Linked DNA regions of Homo sapiens: regions 2, 3, 4, 5 and 6 are each reported to be linked to region 1. The links are microRNA targets in miRTarBase. Many come from high-throughput screens and were not tested one by one. Region 1 holds a microRNA gene; each other region holds the end of a gene's coding sequence.
The links. The annotated mature microRNA hsa-miR-6876-5p reads CAGGAAGGAGACAGGCAGUUCA and lies in region 1 at 2,449-2,470, opposite strand. An mRNA with a match to its seed (bases 2 to 7 or 8) in the 3' UTR can be bound and repressed. Matches are read on the target gene's strand: a 7mer-m8 pairs with bases 2 to 8, a 7mer-A1 pairs with bases 2 to 7 and ends in A, and an 8mer does both.

Region 1 (5,287 bases):
AGATGTGATGTATTAAACAATAGGGTCAGAAGTGGAAGAGACTAAAGAGGTCGTCTAGAACAATTCCTACATACAATGGACTGGGTTAGGAGACTGAGGCACTGAGATATTTGACTAAGGACAAATAGCTGCAGAGTGGTAATATTGGGACTAGAATCCAATGCTCTGATTCTTGTGTTTTACATTAACTTTGGATCATAAACATATGATTTCTAGAACACTGATCCCTGGCTAAACCAATGTGCCAGGTACATTGCTGCCAAATTTATAGGGCGTGGAGCTTTACTTTATTATTTTAAGGAATTATTGAATTATAAGAGTTACTTTTAAAAAAGTATTGAGTTTATGACGTGATTGGTCACATTTACGTATTTGGTGCAAAGTCCTTGGTTAGGAACCAAATCTCCAATCGCAACATGCTTTGAGAAAATGTATTCCATTTTATAATGTGGTTTCTATAAACATACTTAATGAAAAAAAGGGGGAATGATCTATAATGAATAAATATCAAGTAAGCAGTGCAAAGAGTAAGTGGGCTACAGGGGCTTAGGGAAGTGGAGGGACAGAGATTGGCGGAGCAGCTAGAGATGGCAATGGTACCCTCACATACTTCTGAGGCTGCAATGTGGATTCACAGAAATGTAGACATCCCAGTGCAAACCATGAGCAGGAGAAAAGGTGGGCTGTAGTCAAACGGTGGTGGACCCTGACAAGTGAACTAACGGTTTAGCTATGGGAAAAGGTGTAGTATTCATATCCTTTGGTAGGACAGAATCCCAAGATACTGGAAAGATAAAGACTTTAGGTGATGACAAAGAGTGGTTTTCCTGTTCTGTGGGAACACCTGTGCCATGAAACCACCATAGACGTGGTAACTATAATTTGTGGTAAGATGCTTTTTTTTTCTCAGCCCTCAACTGTTCGAGTGAACACATTCTGCAAAGTTCTCCAGCTTCCTGTGTGGGGGCTCTGCTAGGCCTGTGGGCTGCACTATTTCTAGGACATGGTGAATCCAGACAGGTTCAGCCCTATGTTTTCTTTTTTTTTTTTTTGGAGTTGGAGTCTCAATCTATTACCCAGGCTGGAGTGCAGTGGCACAATCTTGGCTCACTGCAACCTCCGCCTCCCAGGTTCAAGGGATTCTCCTGCCTCGGCCTCCCGAGTAGCTGGGACTATAGGCGCGTGCCACCACGCCCAGCTAATTTTGGTATTTTTAGTAGAGACAGGGTTTCACTGTGTTAGCCAGGATGGTCTCGATCTCCTGACCTCGTGATCCATCCACCTCGGCCTCCCAAAGTGCTGGGGTTACAGGCGTGAGCCACCACGCCCGGCCTTAGCCCTGTGTTTTCAAGAGGGATGGGGGCCAGGTCACAGAGAAAACGCAAGATGAGAAAACATAATTTCCATTAGGTTCCAGAGAAAGTATCAGTGTCCAAGAGGATATGGAAATGAGAACTTCTCAGCAGCTCAGAAATATCAGGTTGTTAGGCATCAGAGGATAAGAAGGAAGAGGTGTCTGCATAAAAACAGAAAGGCCTTTGATTCTTTATTTTTTATTATTATTATTATTTTTTAGAGAGACAAAGTCTTACTAAGTTGCCCAGGCTGGTCAGTCTTGAACTCCTGGACTCAAGTGATCCTCCTGACTTGGCCTCCCAAAGTGCTGGGATTACAGGCCTGAGCCACCATGCCCAGTCAGGTCTTTGATTCTTAAGAATAGTCACAGGGGCTGGGCGCGATGGCTCATGCCTGTAATCCCACCACTTTGGGAGGCCGAGATGGGTGGATCACGAGGTCAGGAGATCGAGACTATCCTGGCTAACACAGTGAAACCCCGTCTCTACTAAAAATACAAAAAAATTAGCCGGGCGTGGTGGCGGGCGCCTGTAGTCCCAGCTACTCGGGAGGCTGGGACAGGAGAATGGCGTGAACCCGGGAGGCGGAGCTTGCAGTGAGCCGAGATCGCGCCACTGCACTCCAGCCTGGGCGACAGAGCGAGACTCCCTCTCAAAAAAAAAAAGTCACAGGGATCTCAATAGTGCGCACACTGGGCAAGCCAGGAAAATCAGCCTGCAGAAGGCCCCAGCAGTAATCTGACTTTGCACTGGAGGCTCTGGCCTCCCTAATTATCTCTAAAATGGGCACAGCCTGCCCTAATACCGGAGCTGGAAACTACCTGAGAATAGGAAGGCCACGGAGTCACTCCTGTCTGGTGCAAAGGGGACAGTGTGAACTCTGTGCAGCATCAGTGATGACTCAACTCACCACATCCTTCCTGTCCAGCACCTCCAGGATGTTGCTCAGAAGCTGCGAGCTTGCCTCGTGGTCAGGCTTGTTGGAGTTGTCATCTAACTGGCCGCTGAGCTGGTCTGTCAGCAGTGGCAGCAGCACTTCTCTGCACTCTGAGAAGGAAAACACAGACAGCTCACACACAGCAGTGCCACCTCCTGAACTGCCTGTCTCCTTCCTGCAACTCTTCCTCGACCAGTACCAGTAGCTCTAAGCTCTGCAATCAGCCCTGCAGGGATGCAGCCCCTCCAGGCCACCCAGGAACACCTGGTTTTAGGCACGGAACTTTACCCTTGTTCAATGCGCAGATGAATGAATTAAAAAAAAAAAAAATGACCCTTCTCACAGGTGAAGGTGGGAACTTAGCAAAATGTTTAAATTATTTAACAATTTCTCTAGCTTTTCAAAACGCCAACCTAATGCACGAAATTGAGGGTCATATGAAACAAATAAAACCAAGCAAGTTATACATTTTTTTTTTCAAAAATTTTTTCACCTAATGGAGAAAATTTACTGAAAGAAGTTCCTATAAATAAAGTTCCTATAAATACTGAGCTTCCCTAGTACATGTCAATGACATTCTGCTCATGTCTGTGCAGGCGTGTGGATTTCAGAAAGTAAGGTATGACCTATTATGTCTTCTGAGATCTTTGCTATTGTAACACATTTTATAATGAGTTCAGGTACTCTGAATGCTACAGAAATGACTGTTAACCGTGATCACACTCTAAGTAGAACTATCCAGTGCATGCTTGCTCTTCTGCTCAAACACCTTATCTTTACTATCTCAATTACCTTTTCTGTATCCTTAAAAAGTGATCAAAGCATATTAAAATGTTTAGTAATAATTTGCTTTAGTAATAAATGTTTTCTACTTATGAGCATTCACTAACCTTTTGCAGGCATTACCTCTACCTCCAATTGTGTCTTAGGAACATTTGCAATTTCAAAGTGCAAATTCATAGGGTCAGAAAATATCAGAGCCCAAGGAGGCTACTGATACGATCTAGCTCAAGTCCTTCCTTCCACAGAACTGGAGGCTGAGACTTAGAGAAGGCCACTCATTTGTCCAGTTACATAACTAGCCAGGGGCAAAGCCAGGAAGGCTCTCCCACCAACAATCCACTCAACTTGTTTAACGTTGAGGAGTCCTGCTGGTCTTCAGATCTCCAGGCAATATACATACATAAAATGAGGTTACACTCTGGGAGCCCCTGACCAGGTAGTTAGCCCCAGAAGAAGTCTCCGTGGCTGCCTCACTCTAGCAAGTCTTGAGTTTATTGGGAAGGCCCAGGTGCTGGACCTCCTGTTTATATCAGCTTTGGGACAGAAACACTTGGTGGCTATTTGCTAGACTCTACTTACAAAATGAAAAGTATTTTATCAGTGTAAGAGTTTTTCCCCTCCATGCCCCACTCCTCTCCCAGCAGAATACTAGTAATCTGGCTTCTGCCAGCCTACCCCCTAAAGAAAACAGCTTGGCCAGGTGCAGTGGCTCATGCCTATAATCCCAGCACTCTGGGAGGCCAAGGTGGGTGGATCACCTGAGGTCAGGAGCTTGAGACAAGCTGGCCAACATGGTGAAACCCTGGCTTTACTAAGATTACAAAAAAAATTAGCTGGGCATGGTGGTGCACACCTGTAATCCCAGCTACTTGGGAGGCTGAGGCAGGAGAATTGCTTGAACCTGGGAGGTGGAGGTTGCAGTGAGCCAAGTTCATGCTGCTGCATTCCAGCCTGGGCGAAAGAGTGAGACTCCATCTCAAAACAAAACAAAACAAAAAAACGCTTGCTTTATCATGTTTGCCAGTTACCCTGGTGTAAAGACTTCCACCATGGTCAATTTCCAGCTACTAATGTGATATCACTGAACGTGGGGTTGAGAAGGGATGCATGTAACCAGCTCTCCTGTGGGATCCAACACATTGCTGTTTCCCTGTCCCCTGGTTTTTAAGGTCATGCAATAAGTATAGACTAAAGAAGAATAATTTCTTTTAAAAGGGTCATCTTTTCCTACTTGCTTGTTACTTCCTGAGGTTCCTGTTTTAAAGACAAAATTCTCTAATTAATGAACCACTTGCAGATTGTTCTAATTAAAGATTAAGGAACACATGATTTTGCTCTTTTAGGAACTGTTGGAAATACCGAGCTGACTTTAGATTCTCCTTAAAACCGCTCTCCCAGGAGGTCCTTACATACAACTGGCAACAATATTAATGTTGCCAACAAACAACTGGCAAGAATATTAATGACATTTTTAAAAAAGAAAAGTCAAGTGCTGACTGGGCACGGTAATTATGCCTGTAATCCCAGTACTTTGGGAGGCCAAGTTGGGCAGATCACTTGAGGTCAGGAGTTTGAGGCCAGCCTGGCCAACATTGTGAAACCCCCCCTCTCCCAAAAATACAAAAAAAAAAAAAAATTAGCTGGGTGTGGTGATGTACACCTGTAATCCCAGCTACTCAGGGGGCTGAGGCAGGAGAATCACTTGAACCTGGGAAGCAGAGGTTAGAGGGAGCAGAGACAGTGCCACAGAACTCCAGCCTAGGTGAGGGAGTGAGATTCCGTCTTAAAAAACAAACAAGCCGGACGCGGTGGCTCACGCCTGTAATCCCAACACTTTGGGAGGCCGAGGCGGGTGGATCACGAGGTCAGGAGATCAAGACCATCCTGGCTAACGTGGTGAAACCCCGTCTTTACTAAAAATAAAAATAAAAAAAAATTAGCTGGGCTTGGTGGCAGGTCCTTGTAGTCCCAGCTACTTGGGAGGCTGAGGCAGGAGAATTGCTTGAACCTGGGAGGCCGAGGTTGCAGTGAGCCGAGATTGCGCCACTGCACTCCAGCCTGGGTGACAGAATGAGACTCCGTCTCAAAAAAAAAAAAAAAAAAAAAAAAACAAGAAAAAACAAACAAACAACAAAACCCAAGTGTTAGCTGCAGAAATGGGGCTGTCATCTCAGCATGCAGCAGCTTGTTTTAGCTTTTTGAGATGGAGTCT
Region 2 (5,287 bases), not on the chromosome of region 1:
TGGGGAGCAGGGCCTGTCGACTTGCTCCTGACCCACACACGGAGCCAGTCCCTGTCCCAGCTCTGCCCCAGCTCTGCCGCCGCCGCTCTGCTGCGTGACTCCAGGAACCCCCAGCCTCGCTGAATCCATGTCCGCAGAAGAGAAAAGCCTGCCAGGCCTTGGCCTGCCCTGTCTGGGAATCCTTGCTGGAGCCACCCCGAAACACCCCTATGGGAACCCCTTTGGTCTTTATCATTCTTGGGTGTTTTCCACTGATGACTGCGGGTGTGCCCAGTGGCAGCTGGGCCTGAGCTGTCAGCCCAGGCAGGAGACAAACAAGCCTGTGACTCAGGCAGGGCATGGCACAGCTGGCGGAAGGAGGCATGCCTGTTCTTTGTGGCTGGGCGGGGGGTTATCCGGACACAGGGAGTCTCCAGCTTCCGGCTTTCCCACCTCGGTGCCCCCAGCCCACACCTGCAGCTTGGCCATGGTTCTTGGGGCCTCCCAAGGCTGCCCCTGCTGGCAAAGGCATCCTGATGCACCCGCCCCAGGGTGAGCCAAGGGCAGAGACACCCAGAAACGCCAGGCTGGAAGGTTGGAGAGCCCCTCCTCGCCCCCCGCAACACCAATAAGCCCTGCCCCACCCTCCAAGCCCTTGGGGTGAGCCCCATCACCAGTGACTATAACTGAATTTCAATGCAGAATATTATACAAATTAGTAGTTTATTTCTTCCTTTAGTATTACAGTTCCAAAACGTAACTTGAAGGTCAGCACAGGAGCTGCTGTGATATAAAAGGAGAGAGTCACCTGGCGCCCCCTGCAGTCCTCCAGTTGCCCAGCAGCAGTGGGACGTTCAGTGGCACACAGTGGGTCTCTGTATGGCCTCCCACCTGCAAGGACTTCCCCGGGCAGGCCCAGCTGCCCAGAAGCCCCGGAACACACAGGAAGACAACACTATAGGATGGCAGGTGGGGATCTGTGCAATACAAACATGTAGCTAGAAAACCCAACCGAGGATCTGTCTAGAATACTTCCGATATCAATATACCGTAGTTGAAACCAGAACCGTCTCCAGCTGTCAGCAGTCTTGGCGGCTACTGTACAGCTGTCAGCATGACTACAGGCAGCGCCCGAGGCTATCTGGGGTAAGAAGTGGGCCTGCACATCACATCGGTGAGTCAGTGAGAGTCAGGGCCAGAGGGAAAAGCAACTCGGAGGCTGAGGCTGGCACAGATACACACAAGGGAGTCACACACATAACATAATAACTTGTTATATAAAATAGATATGTGGAATCTAGAAACACCTTGAGAAAATAGCCTATAAAAATATAAACTGTAGTGAGAGTGTACAAAAGTATTAACAGAGGTTCAACCCATAAAAAACCCCATCCATTTAAAAGTTGGCAATTCCTAGCAGGTGTTGGGAGGGAGCTCCCCTCGGTCCTGGTGCGCACGTTTGGACAGGCCTTTGGGTTTCCCAGCTGGCAGGGTCCCCCTTGCAGGGGCCACGGGCTGGGTGTTGGGGTGAAGGTTCAGAGGAGGAACAGCAGCTTGGGGCAGCCCCTGTCAGAAGGGCCCCCTGCCATGGCAGCCAGTGGAGGCCAGGGACCTTCAGGGCACTGGAGGGGACAGAGCAGCTCTTTCCTCAGTGACCCGAGGGAGGGGAAGTGTTAGCGCAAAAGAGTGGGGCCCACAGTCCTGGAAGGAGGAGTTGGCTCCGTCCCGTTCCCAAACTTTAACCAGGCGGAGCCGCCCTCTCTTGCCTTCTGGACACGCATCACTTGATTCCAGGCAGGAGAACCTCTGAGAAAGTGTCCCCAGTCCCTTTCCTCCAGGAACTCTCCTGCTGTCGCACACACACACTGCCCGGCAGCTGCTGACAACTGCCTGGAAACACTAACATACCACCGTGGGTTGCAGCCACGACGGGCCCCTGGTCAGGTGCATCTCTCAGGGCAAACTGGACAACACGAGCCTGTCCCTAAAGGCAGCTCTTAGCCCCAGGACATGGCAGTGTGTGCTGGCATGTTCCAGGGGCCATTGGCTCGGAAAGTAAAACCTCAGGGCCCAGCCCCATTCCTGCTGCACCTCCTCAGCAGCCGCCCCCCAGGCTGACAGCTGTCGTTTCACGATGGGCTGAGGGGTGGGGGGGGTTCCAACACTTGATTCGAGCAGACTGCAACGCCCAGCTCACAGGACAACTGAAGGAGTCAGACCTCAAACTGCTGCTCTCAAAGACAAAGACAATGACAAAACCCATTTTTGATGCCTGAAAAGAGGCAAAGGCTTCTGGCTAAATATAGAGGCCAGCTCCGTCTACCCAGTGAAACATTAGTGGAGTTGGTTAAAGACACGAAGCCGGAGCTCACTCTAGCATGTGCTGAAACACCAACTTTGCCGTGGCATTGCCAAAAAGTTGACAGCAAAAAATAGGAAAAATACTTCTTAAAACTGCATTGCTTCAATTCTTAGTCTCAGTGTGTTCACAACAAAGGATGATTTCCAGTTTTTTTCGGGTAATATGAAACATTCCACTGAGATCATTTATCTTGTATTTTCATAACACTGTGCCAGAAAACATCCTCTCACATCTACGCATCAGGGATGGTCTAGAGCGATTAAGCAAAAACAAGCTCCTTGCTCAAAGCCTCTCCCCAGCCTTCAGAAAGGCAGTCCTCTGAGTTCCCAGAAACTGCTGTGTCAGAGGCAACAGTGCCCCTGCATCCTGGCAGAGAACAAGGATGTTCCAGGCAGTGGTGGGGTGGGCACACATCTGGGAGAGCTCACCCAAGCCTGCCCCAAGCAAAAAAGTTTCCCAGCCCCAGGCACTGGCAGCCGGCCTCCTGCACAACCCAGGCAGGTGGAGACACCAGGAGCACTGGCCATCCCCAAGGAGGCCATGGTTTTCAGCTGTCCAAGAGCGTTCACGCTGCGGCTGCACCACTGCCCTGCAAAGCACCCCCGAAAACATTCCTCCATCCCCTCAACCAAGGCCAGCCCAGGCGTGGGCCTGCTTTGCAATATGACGGTCCACTGTTTACTTGGAATCCCATCCCATCGTACTTGGTGAATGATTTCCACAAGTCAAGAAGGGCATTCCACAGAATCTCACAGAGCCATGCCTGGCACGGGGCAAGCTGGGGACAGAGCAGCCCAGTGATCTGCAAACACAGGCTGGCCATGAGAAGTGAGGGTGGGTGTCTGGGCAGCCAGGCCCTCCCCATGCAGGCTGGAAGACACTGATGGAAGGGTTGCGTGTGGAAGAGCAAAGGCTATTCTAGAAATGGGGCATGGCTGGCAGCTTAAAGCCACTGGTGGGAGGTTCACAGGCTTTCCTACAGTGGCCATTTCTGAACAAGGGATGTGCCTGCTTTTCTAAGGCAGCCCCTTTTCATACCAACCTTATGCCTGAGGCAGCAACCCTCTGGCCTACAGGTGCCTAAAGCACAGCTGGCATCCTTTATAGCACTGCCATTCAAAACCACACACCACTGCCCACTATGTACAGGAGAGAGAATATGGGGAGATGCCCAGCAAAGCAAGGTTTCAGAGGGTCAGAGCACCGACAGGCTGACGGAGGCTGGAAACAGGCTCTTGCAAATAGCCACTGGTAAGCCTGAGGATCCACCAACCAGGCAGAAAGCGTGACTGAGATACGTGTAACCAAAAGCATGGCACGGAAATGGTTGTAAACAGATTAGACCTCCCACCCCTGCCCCCCGCACAGTGGGAAATGAGGAAGGGCAGCCTGGCTTGGGACATCTGCCCAGCAGATCCCCAGAGGACACACACGTTACATTCTGGCTTTTAAGTGCACTTTCACCCTTTGGGCACACTTTGGTTGTGAAGGAAGGAAGAGCAGCATCCCGAGCCCACTCAGGTATCCTCCTCCTCGTCACTGACCAGCTCACCCTTGTCAGGGCTGGTGTCCCGCTCACGCAGGAAGTCCTCACGGATGGCCTCCAGCTCGGTCAGCTCCAGCCGGACTTTCTCCAAGTGGTAGGCGCGTCGGTTCCGGATCTGGCGTAGGGGGAAAGGGTTCAGGTCCCCAAAGGAGATACTGATCAGCTTCCTGGCAGGACGCAGGGGAGAGACAAGAGAATCAGCGGCGCTCCAGAGAGTGCTCACACACAGCCCTCACAGGCATAGCAGGTGGCCTGGGGCAGGGTGGGAAGAGCGCTGGCCAGGCTTGGGGCCTGATGTAGGGGATGAGGCCCACCTTCTGTAGAGAGGTGACAAAGCACAATGGCCCAGCCAGGGGCAGGCTCAGAATGACGACCTGGACTCCAGCTCTGCCACATGCTTGCTGTGTGACTGAAGTCACCCCCCTTTTCTGGCCTCTGATCTTCATCTGCACACTGGGGTAAGAGTAGTGCCACCTCCTAGGGTGTGGGATTACTCGTGTTCCCACACATAAGCCCTGAGAAGAGCTCCCGGCACTTGCATGGTGATGGCAGGTATGTCTTCATCCTTGGGCGGGCATGAGGCCTGGCACCGGGCACGAGTCCGGGACGTCTGTGTCCCAGGACTCATTGACTGGGAATGAACACAGGCCCAGGCAGTCCTGGCGATGACTGTCAGACCCAGTTGGCAATGTGACAAGTGTCCAGATGCAGTCTACAGAGAAATGTGCAGCTTGTGGGTTTCACATCCCCAGGTCAAGGCTCCAATTTTCAATAAAAATGTTAAGGTTATGATCCACTTGCTCCTAACCACTGGTCAGTGGCTTAATAAAAACAAGACCAAAAGCTGTCCTGAGGCCTGGCTATGGATTTGTAGCACTAATGGGTCAGCCACACTGGTCTCTGGGGATCACAAAATAGGCCAGTTCCTAGGGCCACCTTCTTCCCCTCTCTGGATTCTGCCAGGCCCCAAATGCTTTGTATCCACCAACATGGGCTCATGCGCTTCCCTGTCAACCAAAGGCCCAACAGACTCACCAGCCCCAGGAAAAGCTGTGATGAAACAGAAATGCCCCGAAGGACTTCCTGCCTGTCCCCATCAGAGCAGGCCATTTGCTCCTGCTGCCGTCGGCTGCGTGGGCTCCTTTTAACACAAGGCACACACGAGGGTGCAACCTTTTATGTTTCAAAACACCCACTACTACCTGGACATGCTTAACTCTCGTCCAGAGGCTTAAGGTCAGAAAGGCCAGCTTTATTTAAATTCTGAATTCCCCAGTGTGTGTTCTGGAACACGGGAGCACCAGAGAACAGAGAACGCCCAAGCACAGGGGTCCCCGCGTGTGGATTTCTCGGGTTCCGCCTCCTGCCTGGCTCTGCAGACCAGGCTGCCAGCCCCAGCA
Region 3 (3,167 bases), not on the chromosome of region 1:
CCCCAGGCTTTGGACTGTTACTCCGGTAAAGGTGGTTCTTCCCCTTTGGGATTCCAAGCCCAGGCAAATGGAACCCATCAATGGGCAAGTTGACAGAGGTTCTGCTTGGGATAATGAAGAGCTGCCTGTTTCTTTCCAGTGCCTGCTTCTGGGGGCAGTGACCTTGTGAACCACTCATTTTTATGCAAGTGGCATCCCTAAAACCTGAGATGAGGAAGACTTCAAGGGTTTTACAGGGCCCTTGTTTTTTAAATCCAAATTGATAATAATGATCTCAAAACACAGTGAGAGGTCTGAAGGCTGGCTTCTGAAGAATCCCTGATGTCTTATTGGAACAACCACTGAGCTACGGAGAGCTCTGCTGTGATGGGCTAGGCACTTTATATCTGTGTGAATACAGATTTATAAAACAGGTTAATAAACTTATCCAAGGTCACATTTCAGGTCTGTCTTCAAAATGTGTGCATATGTTAAGCACAAGCCTCAGTTTTCATTATTTTAAAACTAGACGCAGAACATATAACAACTGTCAGGTGGTTAGTATCAAAGGCCAAGTGATTAATCTAGGCCTGACCCCTGAAAGGGAGAGGGGAGTGATTCTCAGACCAAGTCCTGGCTGACAAGCTTTCTCTGGTCTTAGCTATACATCTCCTTCCCCCCACGTCCCTCTTTGTGCAGAAATAAAATCCATGTCCCTTGAGCCAGCTGGTGGGGGGTGCTGAGAACCTTGGGGAAGGGCAGGAAGGCTGATATTAATGAGTATTTTCTAATCTTAGTTTAAAAAGGGGGGATGGTGGGGAAATGAGAGGCAGGAAATGAAAATCTAGAAACCCCTGTAAGAATTCTTGAACTGTTGTCATTTTCTTGTCATGCCCTAACACCATGATCAATGAATAGTGTGAACCTTACTAAAGAGGCCTGTGTGCCTGCCAAGGAGTCAGGATGGAAGCGGAGGATCCCAATTTCCTCTGCAAATAGTTGTATTGGGGAGCAGAGCCAATCCTGGAGGCAGATATCACCTTCTGTATAGGCTCAGGAGCCTGTCCCCTGGTGATCAGGGGTGGGCGCATCTAGATGAAGCAGACTAGTCATAGCTGTGGGGAAAAAGGGTGTTTATTAACCAACGGCAGGGGGAGGAGCTGAGCCCAGGCTCCCCACTCTGTCACATGCCTGTTCCACCCACCTGGTTGTAAGTGGGGGCATTCCTAAAGAAGTGTAGCCATTCTCACAATAAATACATTCATTGTGGGGTGGAGGTGGGAGAGGTTGGGTGAAGGGCAGTAAAAACCCGTGGGATTCCACGTTCTCAGCTACAAAAATAACAGTCATCCTCACCCGAGGGGAATGGGGGAGCTCAGTCAGAATTGATTGTCCCATATAGGCCTAGAGACTTCAGAGGCCCCTGGCCCCTGAAAGTGCCCCGGTGAGGTAGGACAGGGGTAGGAGCTAAGCGTCCAAACTCCCAGCCTCTGCCCTTTGCATAGTTCCAAGAATGGGCTTCATGTGCCAGTTGAGACATCAGATTTCTCCTCCCTTTCCCTGCTGTAGTCTAGAGGAAGCAAATGCTTGATTCCCCCAAAAGAGAGGCTGGCTCATTGAGTGCAGTGTTGGTCATCCATCCTAGGCAAGGGCCTGTGAGGACAGTTAAATGGGAGGGGGATCTCCCTCTGAAATGTCCACGGACTAAACCCAACAGACAGGTCCAAGACAGCAAGGGAGGCTCAGAGGTGCATGTGAGTGGAAATGTAAGCACATGTGTGATACAGGTGTGTGTTACCACATGTGCATGGGGATGGGACATGCCTGGAGCTCTGTCTCTCATACTCTTGAGAATGACCAAGGAGAGTGGGGAGGCTGATTCACAAGGGCCACACAGGAAGGGAGAGGAGGGGAGTGATGCAGTCTTACCTCCCCAGGCTGGCCCGTTCCCAAGCTCTTGACAAAGAGGTCACCACATGGGGCTGGGGAAGAGGACCAGATAGGATGTGGCAATTGGGAGGGTACCCCAAGTCCAGAAGCAGGGATGAAACAAGAATGCACCAGGAGAAGGTGAGGGTGGGGGCACTGCAGCCCAGCCGATAAACATTCTTCCATGTGTGCATGTGAATGTACGCAGGGCTTAGGTGGCTGGCAGAGGTCTTGTCTGGTTTCAGGACCATCCAGCACACAGGGCCATGCAGAGGGTGGTGACATTGAGCCCATATGGACCTGCAGAGCCCTGCCTGGGAGAAAGAGAAAGGGTTTGGGCAGATGAATGGAACAGGAGGATGGAGTCCTCACCTATAAGTGTTTAGGTTAGGGGATAGGAACTGGCTCTGGGTCTGCAGGGCACCTGATCCTGAGGGAGCACCTACCTCTGAGGAGCACCGATGGGCCTGGGCTGCTCACATGTGGGTCTGTGGAGACTGAGGAGGGGGCTTTGGCTGGGCCTGACTGGCCAGCCCTACAGGGACATCAAAAAGTTGGGAGAAGGGTATGGAGTGGGGGTAATGAAGGGAGGGTGGCTGTGTTAGGGAGGCAGTGGCCCAGCCTGGGACAGATAGGCTGGCTTGGAAGAGCATTTGTTCTGGGAGGCTGGGCTCAGACAGAGCTCTCATCTAGCTGCTCCACGAGCTGCGTGTGCTTCCTTTTTTCCAGGATGCGGCTGAGTTCCTCGGCGAAGGAGCAGGGCCCTGCTGGTACTCCATTGTTGCTCTGCCTCAGAAGCACATAGCTATTGCCATTCATCCTCCGCAGCCGGCTGGGCAGTGCCACCAAGCCATTGGTCAGCTCAGCCGGTGGCGGTGGGGGCGGTGGGGGTGGTGGGGCTGGGGCTCCCTCCCCAGGGATGATCTGGAGACAGCTGCCCTCCAGGCCCCCAGCCCCCTCATCATCACCCTCATCTTCCTCTCCAGGACACTGGCCTGAGACTGTCTGCAGTTGCACCGCAGATCCTCCTGCCCGGCTGGCCCGACCCAGTGAGTATTTCCGTCGGCGCCCTCGTCTGCCTTCCCGCAGACAGGCCACATAGAGGAGGGAGGAGGCCAGGATGAGGCAGAGGCCACCAAGCGCGGCAATGGCTAGCACATAGAGCAGTCTCACATCAGGTGCCAGCTGTGCCCCAGGTGTGGCAGGGGCTTTTGGAGCTGGGGCAGGAGTGGCTGGCCGGACTGTGAGACTATAGGAGG
Region 4 (4,920 bases), not on the chromosome of region 1:
CTTCCAGAAGTCTTTACCGGCTTTTATGTTAAGGCTTCAGTGTCTCATGCTGCTAGGGAAGATAAAGCTTTTGTAGGTCTATGGTTCTTAAGGGTATGATACTAAATCTGAGCAGAAGGGTGGCATCCAGGCAAATAGGGCAGAAGCTAGGTTATTATTTACACTGACTGTTCTTTTTCCCTTCCATGCAGTGCTCTGGTCTGGGGTCTCTCTGTGAAACACAATCCTCAGAAAGTGGGTAAAGACCATACGTTGGAGGATGAGGATGTCATTCAAATTGTGAAGAAGTGAAACCTTTCCCTTTTCCCATCTGCCGGACGAACCACAACAGCGTTCCCCATGATCAAGCACCCTACCCCAGTTCTTTCTGGTTTTGGCAGTCACTGGATCAGGATCCAGGGGAGGGAGATGGAGGCACCCAAACTGGAACTTCATTTGTCTTACCTTGGTGTCACCTTGTATGTCGAACTGCATAAAAGATCTGGTAGGCTGGTCAGCTACATGCAGCTCATGTGTCATTGTCAGAATTTGTTTTGGGATGGGCTGAATGAGGAAGGGTATATACGGTGAAGCAGCTACAGAAGGGATCCTTGGGAACTTCATCTTGAGTGTGAAATGGATAAAAATATGACATGCTGCATCTTACTTGATGTTTACTTATGGGAACCCCTTCCAAACTAGATATGGCTTTCAGTCCTTTCAAGTAGTCTTTCCCACATGATACTGGAGAGAGGAAGGACTTTATGTAAGTTAATTGATCACTCCCCGCAAGGCTAACCTATTTTGGGAGATCATGTAATTAAGTACTCCGACCAGGCAGATCAGGGTTTGAAATTGCAGGTCCACCTCTAGTTAGCTGTGGAGCCCTGAACAAATTACCCAACCTTTATGAGCCTCAGTTTCCTCATGTAACATGGGGATAGTAATAGCACTTACTTTCTGCGGTGGTGATTGTTAGTAATGGAGGGAGATGGTACTTATATGTCAAATACTGTGCTAAGCAATTTGTAAGTACTCAATGACTCTTGGCTTTTGTTGCACCGAGCCTTTTACTGGGCTGTCTGCCCTATGCAGAGCACAGCTGTACATCATCAGTGTTGGGTTGAATGTTGAGCTGAACTATGTTGCCACCTGGGCCACTAAAATGCTTTTTTCTTTTTCTTTTTCTTTTTTTTTTTTTGAGATGGAGTTTCGCTCTTGCTGCCCAGGCTGGAGTGCAATGGCATGATCTCGGCTCACCGCAACCTCCGCCTCCCGGGTTCAAGCGATTCTCCTGTGTCAGCCTCCTGATTAGCTGGGATTACAGGCAGGTACCACCATGCCCCGCTAATTTTGTATTTTTAGTAGAGATGGGGTTTCTCCATGTTGGTCAGGCTGGTCTTGAATTCCTGACCTCAGGTGATCCGCCTGCCTCAGCCTCCCAGAGTGCTGGGATTACAGGTGTGAGCCACCGTGCCCGGCCAACTAAATGCCTTCTTTCCCATAACCCAGACTTTCTGCTTGAATCCCCATGAAAGTCCTGGCTTCAGCCAATAACTTGGGCGAAGGTGCATTGCAAGTGAGGCAACTGGTGTGATCAAAGCAGGTTTGTGTGTTCACATATGTGTATATATGGAGGTGGGCGGTTTAGGAGGAGGCTTGGTGTCAGGACTACTTGAGAGGATGCTAAGGACATAATCAGATATTTGGGGGACTAGGAATATAGGAATTTAAGGGGATTGCTCTGATTATGTGAAACTGGTTGATGAAAATCTTGGTGTGGTGGGTAACAATATGGACGGAGGGGGCTGGGCCCAGTAGCTCACACCTGTAATCCCAGCACTTTGGGAGGTCAAGGCAGGAAGATCGCCTGAGCTCAGGAGTTCGAGACCAGCCTGGACAACATAGCGAGGCCCAATCTCTACAAAAAAATTTAAAAAATTAGGTGGGCATGGTGGTGCATGCCTGCAGTCCCAGCTGTTCGGGAGGCTGAGGTGAGGACTGCTTGAGCCTGGGAGGTCCAGGCTGCAGTGAGCTAAGATGGGCCACTGCACTCCAGCCTGGGTGACAGAGTGAGACCCTGTCTCCAAGAAATAAAAATTAAATAATTAAAGAATATGGGCAGAAGGGAGGGTATGGACATGTAAGTATGGGGGAGAAATCTTAAACTTGTTAACTAACTTGCTCTTGGGAAGAAGTCAAACATTATTTCAGTATGGATGGAGTAGTCCCTGAGAAAATCAGGAAGAATAGGTTTGCAGCAAGACAGAATTTGATTATTTCTTCAAATGAGGCAAGCCAGAGCTTTTAGCAGGTCATGAGTGATCACAGTGTGGGATTATTCACATACTCAGCCTCTCTCCAGTGCTTGTTTCTCCTGCTGCCCTAATAGCAGTTGTTTCCCTTTGATAGTCTTCCTGGAGCTTGGGCTTGTCACTGTCCCCAGACCTGGAAGGTAAGCTCCTGAAGCCTGGTATGCTAGTTACTTTTCAGAATATCGGCCTTGATACCACTGGTGCATTCATGATAGAGGCCGTGGTCTAGAGCCTGCCCCAACCCTGCAGGGGAACAGGGAAACATTGGCTTTCTGAGCTACGGGATTTCCAGGAAGGTTTGTTCTCCAGCCAGAACATATTGGGTTTCTGGGGACTCTTCTTGCCAAAATTCACTTTCATTGAGCAAGCATTTAGCACTGCCAGAATGTTGGGGAGAGAAGGTTGCTGAAATCCAGTTCATCCTAAGGCCTCAGGATGTTCTGTGAATAGGCTTTGTGTCCATCATTTAGCACCCTCCCCATGGCTTGGTCCAGGGACCCCTGGTCTCCTTGAGGAGAGAATTACCCTACCTTTCCCTTTCTCCTCTGGGCTTAGACTTAGCAGTTCTGGGAGAGGGGTATGTTTGGTATTGGGAATGCTGCCTAGGGTATGGCCACTGTGGAGGTACAGCTAAAGGCTTTCTCCTCATTAACTCTAAGACTTTACTGGTTTGGCTGTCATAGCATGATTTGAATTTCCTGTGCTTTTACATATTCCATGTTTCTTTCCTGACTTTATTACAAGTAAACAGATCCATTGTTCTGTGCCATTTAACTAGTTAGAACACGTTTAGCTGCATTTAGCAGAAAGTGCTAACTTAAGCGGCTGAAATGGAAGGGAACTTGGTCTTACCTTTTTGGGAAGCTGTTTTCCAGAAGCCACCCAGTTTGTTGTCTCGTGGCCTAAAATTGGGTCACATGTCTATTTTTGAATCAATTGTTGGTAAAGGGAATAGAATTATTGAAGAACCAGAATTTAACCCTGTAAGTTATCGTCATTCTTGGTTTGTGTTTATGCTCATAGTTCACAAAGGCCAATGGACCTCCCACTTCCCTTCCCTGTTAATAGAGTCTGGCTTAAAAGACACTCAGTAGCTATCTCCTAGGGGAAGGCCTAGCTGCACTCTCTGTTCACTTCATTCCCACTTCCTTTTACCACTGACCTCCCACAGACTTATTTAACTGCTTCCTTTGGGAGGGACTATTCTTTCCTCTCCTACCTGACCTCCCCTGCTTAACAGATTTTCCATGATATGCTTTGTGGTCCTCAGCTGTTTTACTTTCAGGATGCCTTCTATATCCTCAGCTTCTCTTAACTTTTATTTTGCACATCCTTCCAGCACTGATTGCTTGTGAACTCATCTCGTGCCTGCAAGACATCAAAAGTTTCTCCAAAGACATCCCTTCCTCTCTGCCCTCATCCTATATCAAGGTCTTAGCTCCTTGAAGACTGCATTAATGTGTCTTTTGCCTTCATCCCCCCCCCACCCTCCCGCTTCCTCTAGTCCTTGTGTTTACCAAAATACTTTTGCTAAAACCTGTATGTCTAGCTTCTGCTGATACTCTTAGCAATACTCCCTTATTTCCTTCTGGCGCCATTTGCCAATCACCAGCTAATGGCTTTGCTCTTTGCATGGTACCTGTTTCTGTCCTACTAGCTTCTAGTCTGAAAAGGAAGCCTTTACTAGCAGCTTCAACCCAGTCCTCCTTACCTTGCACCTATTAACGTTGGTTCAACATGAAGGGGAAGTAAGATAAGTGGAAGAGGATACACAGGAAAGGTGGAACTGGATTCAGGTGTCTGTGTTCTGCCATTGACACTTGGGACTGCGTTCCAGCTTCCACCTGTGGAAACCAGAAAGCATTTGCCAAAAATTCTAAACAGAGGGTCTATTTCTGAAGCTGAGGAATCACATGGAGTGAATAGCATGGGGGAAGGGGATTACTAATGAGGCTGAAAGAAAAGTACCAGGAAGAGACTGACTTCATGCATAATCCATAAAGCCAGGTTTTCTTGAAAGGTGACCTGCTTTCTTGTATTCCTGCAAGTACACGGCAGGGTGGGCAGTTCCAGGCTTATAGTCATTATTCCCTAACAAACGGTCAAGACTTAGGCTGCCCAAGACTCTACTACCCTTGTAGTCAAAAATCCAACCACCTTGACCTTTACCTCATTATCTGACCCTTTAGCATGGAGTCCTAAAATGGTCCTGAATGGACAAATATCTAGAACTCTGGTAAATTAACTTGAGTAGCATGGGAAATAAGTATCACCTCATAGCAGGACTGAAAAACCTCCAGTTAGGAAAGGGGACTCAGAACTGTACTGTATTCTGTAGAATCTTTATCCGTAAGTGCTATGTATATACTAATAGTTAAGGTGAATAATAAAACAATTGTGAGCTAAGGAATGTGATACAGAACACAAGGAGTCAATTAATGCATGAGTCTTAAGGGAAATTCTTAGACTTCAGTGGGTCTAAGCTCAGAACTCTGAGCTTAGAGAAACAGGATGCCCCAGTAAACATGATTTGTTTGAGAGAAACTACCATATGTAATAGATGATTCCTCAATAAACTGTTTTCACTAGGTCAGTTTAATCTTGGAAATTACACTATAGATATCCT
Region 5 (5,037 bases), not on the chromosome of region 1:
CCATAGCGGCCTTCCTCACCCAGTCCGTTTGTCTAGATGACACAACAGTGAAGTTTGAGATCTGGGACACAGCTGGGCAGGAGCGATATCACAGCTTAGCCCCCATGTACTACAGGGGTGCCCAAGCTGCAATCGTGGTTTACGACATTACTAATCAGGTAAGTGAGCTAAGAAGACTGTCCTTGTTGGCTGGACATGGTGGCTTACGCCTATAATCCCAACACTTTAGGATGCCAAGGCGGGAGGATCATGAGGTCAAGAGATTGAGACCATCCTGGCCAACATGGTGAAACCCCGTCTCTACTAAAATTACAAAAATTAGTTGGGCGTGGTGGTGCGCGCCTGTAGTCCCAGCTACTCGGGAGGCTGAGGCAGGAGAATCGCTTGAACCCAGGAGGCGGAGGTTGCAGTGAGCCGAGATCGAGCCACTGCACTCTAGCCTCGGCGACAGAGCAAAACTCCGCCTCAAAAAAAAAAGAAAAAAGACTGTCCTTGCTTATATTTAGAGGAGTTAGTTTGGGGCAGGGGGTAAGGGGGCAGAAAACGGGTTCTTGAAATAGCAAATAAGAGTACAAATTATGCTTCCAAGTGCTAAGAAGACAGATAATGAATTATCAGAGACCTGTGGTTTCACTGAGGGAAGACCACCTAGAAGAGGTGAATTTTGAGACTCATTTTAAAAGGTGATGGATATGGATTGGCAGTCATTCCAGCCTACTCATTCTCTTCATGTTTTCCTAGGAAACCTTTGCCCGAGCAAAGACATGGGTGAAGGAACTACAGCGACAGGCCAGTCCTAGCATCGTTATTGCCCTGGCAGGGAACAAAGCTGACCTGGCCAACAAACGTATGGTGGAGTATGAAGTAAGGTGGCCCGTGGAGTTCCTCTCTAACACTTCCTCTGTTCCTGGGACCTCTTTTTTTCCAAACCAGCCCTCTCTGAAAACGTCAACAGAGGACATTCATTGTCTCATTCCCCAGTTCTACACCAAGTTAAATACAGCAACACTGTGACCCTAATGACAGCCAGGAGATTTTCAAAGGAGTCAGGAGAAAACTCCAGAGCAGAGGGTTAGGGAGGTACCAGCTGTGGGGGTACCAGTGTGAAAACAGGAAGGAGGGAGCAATTAAATTTGTGGTAAGGGACTATTCAAGTGTCACAACCCAAAAGCCCCCAACTAACTTACCCTCTCCCCTATAATTAAGCTTTCTGACATTTGTGTGTTGGACTGAGTGGACATGGGGTCATCTTGAGGGAGTTGTCATTAAATTATGCATCTAGGCTAGCTGGCTCAAAGGGGTATTAATTAAGGGGAGGGAACCTAGGATTTTGCCTAGCTGTTGTGCTGCATGGGAGTGGAAAGGCAATACTCGTTCCCACCCTACATTCTGAGCACTAATACATCCCACTCCTTGCAGGAGGCCCAGGCATATGCAGATGACAACAGCTTATTGTTCATGGAGACTTCAGCCAAGACAGCTATGAACGTGAATGATCTCTTCCTGGCAATAGGTAAGGTCAGAACATCCTGAGGTCCTCCTTTTTCCCTCGTTTATAGGCAAAATTATAGCTAACCCAAATCAAGGATAGGTGCGAGTATCTCCTTTTGCAAAAACTTTAGGTATGGAAATACCTTAACTTTCTGTTATGACCTCCATCCTTGGCTGCAGCTTTAGCTCCCTTGTCTTCAATGTGTAAGTTTGCCGGCCAGGTGTGGTGGCTAACACCTGTAATCCCAGCATTTTGGGAGGCCGAGGCGGGCGGATCACGAGGTCAAGAGATCAAGACCATCCTGGCCAATGTGGTGAAACCCCGTCTCTACTAAAAATACAAAAATTAGCTGGGCGTGGTGGCGCACACCTGTAGTCCCAGCTACTTGGGAGGCTGAGCCAGGATAATCACTTGAACCCGGGAGGTGGAGGTTGCAGTGAGCCGAGATTGTGCCACTGCACTCCATCCTGGCAACAGAGCGAGACTCCATCTCAAAAAAAAAAAAAAAGTTTGCAAATAGTGAACCCTCCCATCTTCAGAACATTCTTTTAATCTCTCAAATTCTCCCTTTTCCCCAATTCAGTAGCCGTTTTTGGCGGGTGGAGGCAGAGGGGTAGGGAAGTAAAGTCTACCATACTTTGTTCTCTTCTCTTTTTATCTCTAGCTAAGAAGTTGCCAAAGAGTGAACCCCAGAATCTGGGAGGTGCAGCAGGCCGAAGCCGGGGTGTGGATCTCCATGAACAGTCCCAGCAGAACAAGAGCCAGTGTTGTAGCAACTGAGGGGGTGGCTAGCAGCAAACAAGTATGGAGCTAGCACAAGAGCTAAGAAATAACCTCCATCCCTACCCCTCAGCACACAACCCCTACGGTAACAGCACACTGAGCCCTGGCTCCCAAGGGCTGCCTCCTGACAGCTCCGTCATGGCACTTTTTAACGCTTCAGCAACAAACACCAGGCAGCTGTTGCCACTGGCCTCCTACCCCCTACTCTGGGGCTTGGGGGTCAACTCCCCCCAGGACTTACCTTCCAAAACAAACTTTCTTCACTTTGTATTATAGGTACAAGACAGCGACTTACGTATCTTTTCTCCTCCTCCCTAGTGTTCCTCCCCATTTTTTCAGAAAACACTTCTGACTCCTGTCCCTTCCCCTTCTGCTTTTGGTCAGTCCCTGTTCTTGAGCCTCTTTTCTCCTCTCCCCAGGATGCAGAAAGTGGTGAACCCAGGAACTGAGGAAGGAGGTTTCCAGTTCATTTACATTAAGGGCCCTGGGGGAGAATAAAGCTCAGAGCAGGAGGGAGTAAGGAAACATTTCCTTTTTGTTTTTATTTGGTTGGAGTTTCTCATATTTGAAAACATTGCGGTATCCATGATTTGGCCTTGTGGAGGGTGTTCCTAGGTAGAGGTGAGAATGGGGAGGCAAGATCTCAGGCACCAGGCAGGAGGTGCCTTGTAAGCTAACTGGGCGGAGGTGGAGGTGCAGTGTCAACTGTGGCTCTGTAACTCTTCAAAGGCCCAGTTTCCCCTCACGCAGCCTCTTAGGTAGCGTTTCCCCTAATCGTGGGGGTTGGACCCCAGAGTCTTCCAAAGAATTTTCACTGGTTGCCTGCATCTTTGGCTCTGCTGTGATCTGATTGGAGGAGGGACAGTTTCTGGTACCCATCCTCTGATTTATACATATGCATTTTTTCCCCTCTGGCCTTTAGATGGCCTCAGCCCCAGCCACCATATACCCCTGCAGTTTGCACTTTAATTGATGGTAGTTCAGTTGGGGTACTTGTTTTATGGAAGTTTTGATTGATTTACTTGCCCTCCCACCTTCTTTTTAATTCAATGAAATCTGAGGTTAATGCGAGGTTCGAGGAGAGGTTATAGATAAAACTACCAGTGGCAGCTACTCAAGTCCTATCTCCACTGTTAGCTTCCTCCAACTCTAATTATTAACCTATATTCTTGCCAAGCTAACTATTGACTATAGGTTTGCCTTTCCTGGAGAATTAATTGAGCAATTGAGGAGTGTCTCAGGATAGCACAGGCCAAGGTAGGGGAGTAAAAAGGAGGTCAGGCAAAAGGGAGGAGTTTTCTGTCCTTTCCCAGGTTTCACACTCAATTTGATATCCATTACCATGTCTTTTCTACTTCCTTGTAAATAGGTATGATCTTTATTCCCACTGTACAGTCTGTTCTATCCTCTGCCTCCCATCAGGCCCTGTTTCTTTGTTCCTTTGTTAATATCTTGAATTTAGTCCCTCCATCCTTAATCCCCCCATCCCTCCCCATCATGCAACCAGTGGTTTAATCCATGTACCAATAGGGGCTAGTACCACAGAGGCCTCCTGTGGTGCCCTCGTATCATACCACCTGTTCCTGTGGAGAGGGAATGACCGGCACTGAAGGTACCTTACAACTGGCTCATATTATCAGAGGACCTTGGTCCTTTCTAAATCTCTAGTCTCTCTTCATATCCTTCATCAGGTGTTTTAAGATGTCTCTGAGAAGCCATCAAGGCAAAAGAGAACTTTAAGTTCCTTGTTCCAGCCCGGAGTTTTGGGAAAGAAAGAAAGGAAAGGTCACAGTGACCTAGGATTGGAACCTTCCTGCCCTTTTGGCTTGCAGACTGCCTTCTATCCCAGAACAGCTGAGAAATCTATGAAGCTGAGATTCTGAAGGACCCAGCTTAGGTTCTTCCACTTAGGCCTCAATTCCCTTCCTTTTCCAGGGGCAGCCTTAGTTCCCATGGCCCTGAAACACACACATTTCCCCCTTCCTTTCCCAGAAGCCACTGGCCCCCCATAGCACCCAGTGCATCCTTTTTACAAGTGGAAGAACTAGGATGGCTTTCCAAAGTCTTCTAGAAATGAAGTTCTTTCTCTGTGCAGCTTTCCCCCTTGGAGCAGGAGTGAAGATGTTTCATTATCTTGGGCCTGGGAAACCACTTCCCCAGGCTTCTCCCTCCCCCCACCCCCATAGGAACAGGATTTGGCCTTAGCTTCTGGGCCTATCGGCTGCCTTCCCTCTACTTCCTACCACCTCTTCTGCCTTCCTTTGAGCTCTGTTGGGCTTGGGGATCTTAGTTTTCTTTTGTTTATTTCCCAGCTCATTTTTTTCTTCTGGTCAGTTTTTTTAAGGGGGGGTGTTGTGGTTTTTTGTTTTTGTTTTGCTTCTGAGAAAGCATTTGCCTTTCTTCCTCTCCCAACATAACAATCGTGGTAACAGAATGCGACTGCTGATTTACCGATGTATTTAATGTAAGTAAAAAAAGGAAAAAAAGAAAAGGGCATTGGAGTGTTGCTTTTTTTTATTTTATTGTTATTATTATTATTATTTTTGCTATTTGTCAGGTACTAGGAATTTGGAAGAAAGGATACCCAGTAATGTTCTACTGAATCAGAAACACACCTTTCCCTGCATCTTGATACATCTTTATTCCCTTTAATCTTTTCTTAAACATCTAGTTTAGAAAATAGCCCTTCTATTGCTATTTAATCACCCCTCTTCTAAGGCCACTAGATTGTTCATCAAATCAAACCCTATTATATCTTTTTA
Region 6 (4,902 bases), not on the chromosome of region 1:
TGATCCGCCCGCCTCGGCATCCCAAAGTGCTGGGATTACAGACGTGAGCCACCGCGCCCGGCCACAATAGTTTTATTTGACGTCAGGACTGTTTTGTAGACCGAGGTGTGATAGATGTGGCACGCACCAGCCACGGTTTCCACCGTCCCCAGAGCGTGGAGAGGCAGCGCCACTGCTCTCAAGGTTAATGACAACTCAATAAAGCACTGCTTTTATTTTTTGCAGTCTTCAATTTGAGAAAGGCCAGAAATAATGTTTTCAATAAATATGGTTCATACCATTAAAAAAAAAAATCCCCCCGCGTCCACGGAAAAATTGTCTTCCATAAAAGCGGTCCCTGGTGCCAAAAAGATTAGGGACTGCTGCTCTACAGAAATAGAAATAGAAAAAACAATCCTAAAATCTATATGGAACCACAAAAGACCCCAAAGAGCCAAAGCAATCCTGAGCAAAAAGCACAAAGCTGAAGGCATCATACTGCCCAACCTCAAAATCTACTACAAAGCTATGGTAACCCAATCAGTATGGTACTGACATAAAAATAGACACATAGACCAATGGAACATATATAAATCCATGCATTTACAGCCAACTCATTTTATGTCAATACCAAAAGTACAAAGGTGCCAAGAACATTCAATGAGGAAAGGACAGTCTCTTCAATAAATGATTCTTGGAGAACTGGATAGCCCTATACTGAAGAATGAAACTCAACTCTATCTCTCACCATATACAAAAATCGCATCAAAATGGATAAAGACTTAAACCTAACACATGAAACTATGAAGCTACCAGAAGAAAATACTGGAGAAATGTTCCAAGATATTGATCTGGGCAAAAATTTTTTGTATAAGACTTCAAAAGCACAGGCAACAAAAGCAAAAATAGACTAATAGGATTATATCAAACTAAAAAGCTCTGCACAGCAAAGGAAACAATCAACAAAGTGAAGAGGCAACCCACAGAATGGAAGAAAATATTTGCAAACTATCCATCTGACAAGAGATTAATAACCAGAATAAATATAACAAGGAGCTCAAACAACTCAATAGCGAAAAAAACCCACAAAAAATCCTGTCTAAAAATGGGCAAAGCCATATGTGGTGGTGCTTGCCTGTAGTCCCAGCTACTCAGGAGGCTGAAGCAGGAGGGTTTTTTTGGGGGAGGGGGAGGGGGTGGGGAGATGGAGTCTCACTCTGTCACCCAGGTTGGAGTGCAGTGGCACAGTCTCAGCTCACTGCAACTTCCACCTCTGGGGTCCAGGTGATTCTCCTGCCTCAGCCTCCCAAGTAGCTGGGATTACAGGTGCTCACCACCATGCCTGGCTAATTTTTTGTAGTTTTAGTAGAGATAGGGTTTCACTATGTTGGCCAGGCTGGCCTTGAACTCCTGACCTCAGATGGTCCACCTACTCAGCCTCCCAAAGTGCTGGGATTACAGGCCTCAGCCACTATGCCCAGTCCCAGGAGGACTGTTTGAGCCCAGTTTGATTCCAGCATGGGCAACATAATGAGAACTCATCTCTTAAAAAAACAAAGCGGGGGGAGCAAAAGATCAAAATAGACATTTCTCAAGACATACAAATGGCCAACAGCTATAAGAAAAAATGCTCAACATCACCAATCATCAGAGAAATGCAAATCAAAGCCACAACAAGATATCACCTCATCCCACTTAAAATTTCCTATCAAGACGACAGGAATTAACAGATGCTGGCAAGGATGCAGAGAAAGAGGAACTCTTGTACACAGTTGGTGGGAATGTAAATTAGTACAGCCACTATGGAAAATTGTATAGTTTCCTCCAAAAACTAAAAATAGAACTACAATATGATCCAGCAAATTCCACTACTGGGTATGTATCCAAAAGAAAGGAAATCAATATATCAAAGAGATATATGCACTCTCATGTTTATTGCAGCACTATTCACAATAGCTAAAATATGGAATCAACCTAAGTGTCCATCAATGGATGAATGGGTAAAGAAAATGTGGTATATATACACAATGGAATATTGTTCAGCCATAAAAGGAATGAAATTCTGTCATTCTCAGCAACATGGATGAAACTGGAGGTGATTGTGTTAACTGAACTAAGCCAAGCACAGAAAAGACAAATATTACATGTTCTCACTCACATGTGGGAGCTAAAAAAGTGGATCTCATGGAGATGGAGGTAGATTGGTGGTTACCAGAGGCCAGGAAAGGTGGTGGGGACGTGAGGATGAAGAGTTTGATTAGTGGACACAAATACAGAAGAAATAAGACCTATGATAGATCAGTAGAGTAACTATAGCTAATGTTAATCTATTGTACATTTCAAAATAGGTAAAAGAGAATAATTCAAATAATGTTCCTAGCATAAAGACAAGATAAATATTAAGGTGAAGGACATCCCAATAACTCTTGATTTAATATTTACACATTATATACATGTATTAAATTATCACTTGTACTCTGAAAATACATACATCTATTACACATCAATAAAAAAACTCATCCATTAAATTCTGTATTATCTTTGCAACTTTCCCGTAAATCTAAATCTATTTTCAAAAAGTTTATGAAAACTCATCCATGGGAATTTAAGGTGGCTGAAGATAGCTGAACACAGTGTAACAGGAAATAAAAACTTTTTAAAAATAGATCAACATGGCTGGGTGCGGTGGCTCACACCTGTAATCCCAGCACTTTGGGAGGCCGAGGTGGGTGGATCATTTGGGGTCAGGAGTTCGAGACCAGCCTGGCCAACATGGTGAAACCCCGTCTCTACTAAAAATACAAAAATTAGCCTGGCATGGTGGTGGGCACCTGTAAATCTCAACTACTCGGGAGGCTGAGGCAGGAGAATCGCTTGAACCCAGGAAACAGAGGTTGCAGTGAGCTAAGATCGCACCACTGCACTCCAGCCCAGGCGACAGAGCAAGACTTCATCTCAAAAAAAAAAAAAAAATAGATCAATACATGCACGGAAAAGGAAAAGGGTTGGAAGAAGGGGTAAGACTGATTCTATGTTAAGATAGTAGAGTTACAGTTTAATTCTTTTGTTTTTTATTTAAGAAAAATGTTTAAATAGGGGCCTTATGTTAGGCACGGTGGTTCATGCCTACAATCTCAGCACTCTGGCAGGCTGTGGTAAGAGAATCACTTGAGGCCAGTTCAAGACCAGCCTGGACAACATAGTGAGACTCCATCTGTATAAAAAATAATTAGCAAGGCATGGTGGAGCGTGCTGGTAGTCCCAGCTATTCAGGAGGCTGAGGTGGGAAGATCAGTTGAGCCTAGGAGGTCAAGGTGAGCTATTATCACACCACCACACTCCAGCCTGGGTGACAATAGAGACCCTGTCTATAAACAAACAAAAAAACACAAGGGACTTGTATGCATAATGAAAGTCTAGATTTTTCAGAGGCCATGATAAGTCACTACAGGGTTCTAAGCAGGAGTAATAGGGCCAGTTTACATTTTTAAGATTGCTCTGGCAGCAGTGTGGAGGGTGGTTGGAAGGGACAGTTAAGATGAGAAGAGACCACAGCAACAGTCCAGGAAGAACAGAGGATAAATGATGACTGTCTGGAACAGAGGGGAAATGACAGAAACAGAAGTAAGAAACTCTTTGGGATATGTAATTGGGGACCTCAGACACCTTCCCAGCTGCTAATGTTGTGTTCTGGGTAAGGCTGCCTATCTTTCAACCTAGACTGGTCAGTCAGTATGTCCCATTGTCTGATGTTTTTAGTGTGCAAAGAAGTCGATTAGGTCCCTAAGATCCCCCCAAATCCTACATACACAGTAGGAAGGTATTTTATAAAATCCTTTATTTTATGAGTGGCAATCGTCACCTCCCTACCCAACACATAAACACACATACCCATCTAGTCTTTGTTTTCATCACATTTCCCAAACTGATCGCATGTCAATGTGACTCACATAGAAAATAAACAAGAGGGGCCCATCACATACGCCAAGTTATCAATACTCCTTTCACCATTTCTGCTCAATCTAGAAGACTCAGCTTGGAATTATTTTAAGATTTTATGTTATTTGCAATATTATGGAAAAGTAAGTTACCGACATTCACAAGGTGATAAGCTGCAAAGAACAAGTTTGTTTTGTTTTCCTTTTTAAATTTAGAATCTTGTTTACAACACATTAGCATCATTAACAGAAAAACGACCATTTACATAGTAACTAAAAAACCAGCCACTTAAGAAAATAATGTAGTAATCAACCACTACCAGAGAAAATAGGTCCTCTCATTTGATTTTACTGGTAAGTCCAGCTGTTTTCTGAACTTTGTGAGAGTCTCTGTCCTGAATATGGCAAAGCATTCAAGTAAAAGGTAGGAAGTTATAAGTGTGAGATTCTGAGGGATTCTGTCTCAAAGAAGGTTCAGGAATAGCCACAGTCCTCCAGTTTACTCGAACGTTGAGATGTTCCTGTGATGACCAGCATAATTTCCTTTTGAGGAATTTTCACAATTCATCAGCCTCAGGATTCAGGTTTTATAAGACATTCTTCCACATTAAAAAAAAAAGACTCTGTCCCATAGAAATAAGTTTCTCATCGCTTCTCCAGCTTCTTGTACTTGGCTTCTGTGAGGGATGAGGGAGAGTTACATCTTTTAAAACTGGCTCTTACAAAGACAGTTTTTAGTTAGCATTTCCAGTCAAGTTTAAAAAATATGTATAATATTACTAAAAATCTATTAGCTTCAATCTCATCATCTGTCCAAATATACGGATCACTGATCTGTAAAACTTGGAATAAGAATTCAAGCACAGACACTCAGAACTGAGAGCCTAACACAGGTTCACGAAGTCCTCACCCTGTCAACAGCACCTACTTAGACAGCTCCACCAGGATGGGGCACATCTGTCACTTGACCTATCGGGAGCCTTAC

Region 2: miRTarBase lists TBC1D2B as a target of hsa-miR-6876-5p. Seed matches in the 3' UTR shown: 7mer-m8 at 3,830-3,836 and 7mer-m8 at 3,719-3,725.
Region 3: the mRNA of SEMA4G is a reported target of hsa-miR-6876-5p. Seed matches in the 3' UTR shown: 7mer-m8 at 1,875-1,881.
Region 4: miRTarBase lists DRG1 as a target of hsa-miR-6876-5p. The part of its 3' UTR that is shown has no 7-base or 8-base seed match.
Region 5: miRTarBase lists RAB5B as a target of hsa-miR-6876-5p. Seed matches in the 3' UTR shown: 7mer-m8 at 4,084-4,090, 7mer-m8 at 4,197-4,203, 7mer-m8 at 4,254-4,260, 7mer-A1 at 4,511-4,517 and 7mer-m8 at 4,530-4,536.
Region 6: the mRNA of BLOC1S2 is a reported target of hsa-miR-6876-5p. Seed matches in the 3' UTR shown: 7mer-A1 at 4,343-4,349 and 8mer at 3,793-3,800.

Annotation. Positions count from the first base shown.
Region 1 is chr8:25,342,590-25,347,876 of GRCh38, reverse strand. MIR6876 (microRNA 6876) reads right to left here and starts at 2,475; the gene lies at 2,403-2,475. It overlaps DOCK5 (dedicator of cytokinesis 5), which reads right to left. Exons shown (of 52, transcript NM_024940.8): 26 at 2,266-2,402. RefSeq lists enhancers at 2,190-2,484, 2,467-2,526.
Region 2 is chr15:77,994,302-77,999,588 of GRCh38, forward strand. It overlaps TBC1D2B (TBC1 domain family member 2B), which reads right to left. Exons shown (of 13, transcript NM_144572.2): 13 at 684-4,054. The coding sequence ends at 3,859. Among named protein-coding and RNA genes, the nearest start is that of TBC1D2B, 81 kb to the right of the region's middle.
Region 3 is chr10:100,983,545-100,986,711 of GRCh38, reverse strand. It overlaps SEMA4G (semaphorin 4G), which reads right to left. Exons shown (of 15, transcript NM_017893.4): 15 at 1,096-3,167. The coding sequence ends at 2,581. It overlaps MRPL43 (mitochondrial ribosomal protein L43), which reads left to right. Exons shown (of 3, transcript NM_032112.3): 3 at 1-443. Among named protein-coding and RNA genes, the nearest start is that of MRPL43, 2.4 kb to the left of the region's middle.
Region 4 is chr22:31,433,681-31,438,600 of GRCh38, forward strand. DRG1 (developmentally regulated GTP binding protein 1) reads left to right here. Exons shown (of 9, transcript NM_004147.4): 9 at 192-772. The coding sequence ends at 291. It also overlaps a transcript of EIF4ENIF1 not described here. Among named protein-coding and RNA genes, the nearest start is that of DRG1, 37 kb to the left of the region's middle.
Region 5 is chr12:55,989,941-55,994,977 of GRCh38, forward strand. It overlaps RAB5B (RAB5B, member RAS oncogene family), which reads left to right. Exons shown (of 6, transcript NM_002868.4): 3 at 7-158; 4 at 742-864; 5 at 1,420-1,513; 6 at 2,157-5,037. The coding sequence ends at 2,272. Among named protein-coding and RNA genes, the nearest start is that of SUOX, 4.8 kb to the right of the region's middle.
Region 6 is chr10:100,270,900-100,275,801 of GRCh38, forward strand. It overlaps BLOC1S2 (biogenesis of lysosomal organelles complex 1 subunit 2), which reads right to left. Exons shown (of 5, transcript NM_173809.5): 5 at 2,394-4,594. The coding sequence ends at 4,563. Among named protein-coding and RNA genes, the nearest start is that of CWF19L1, 5.7 kb to the left of the region's middle.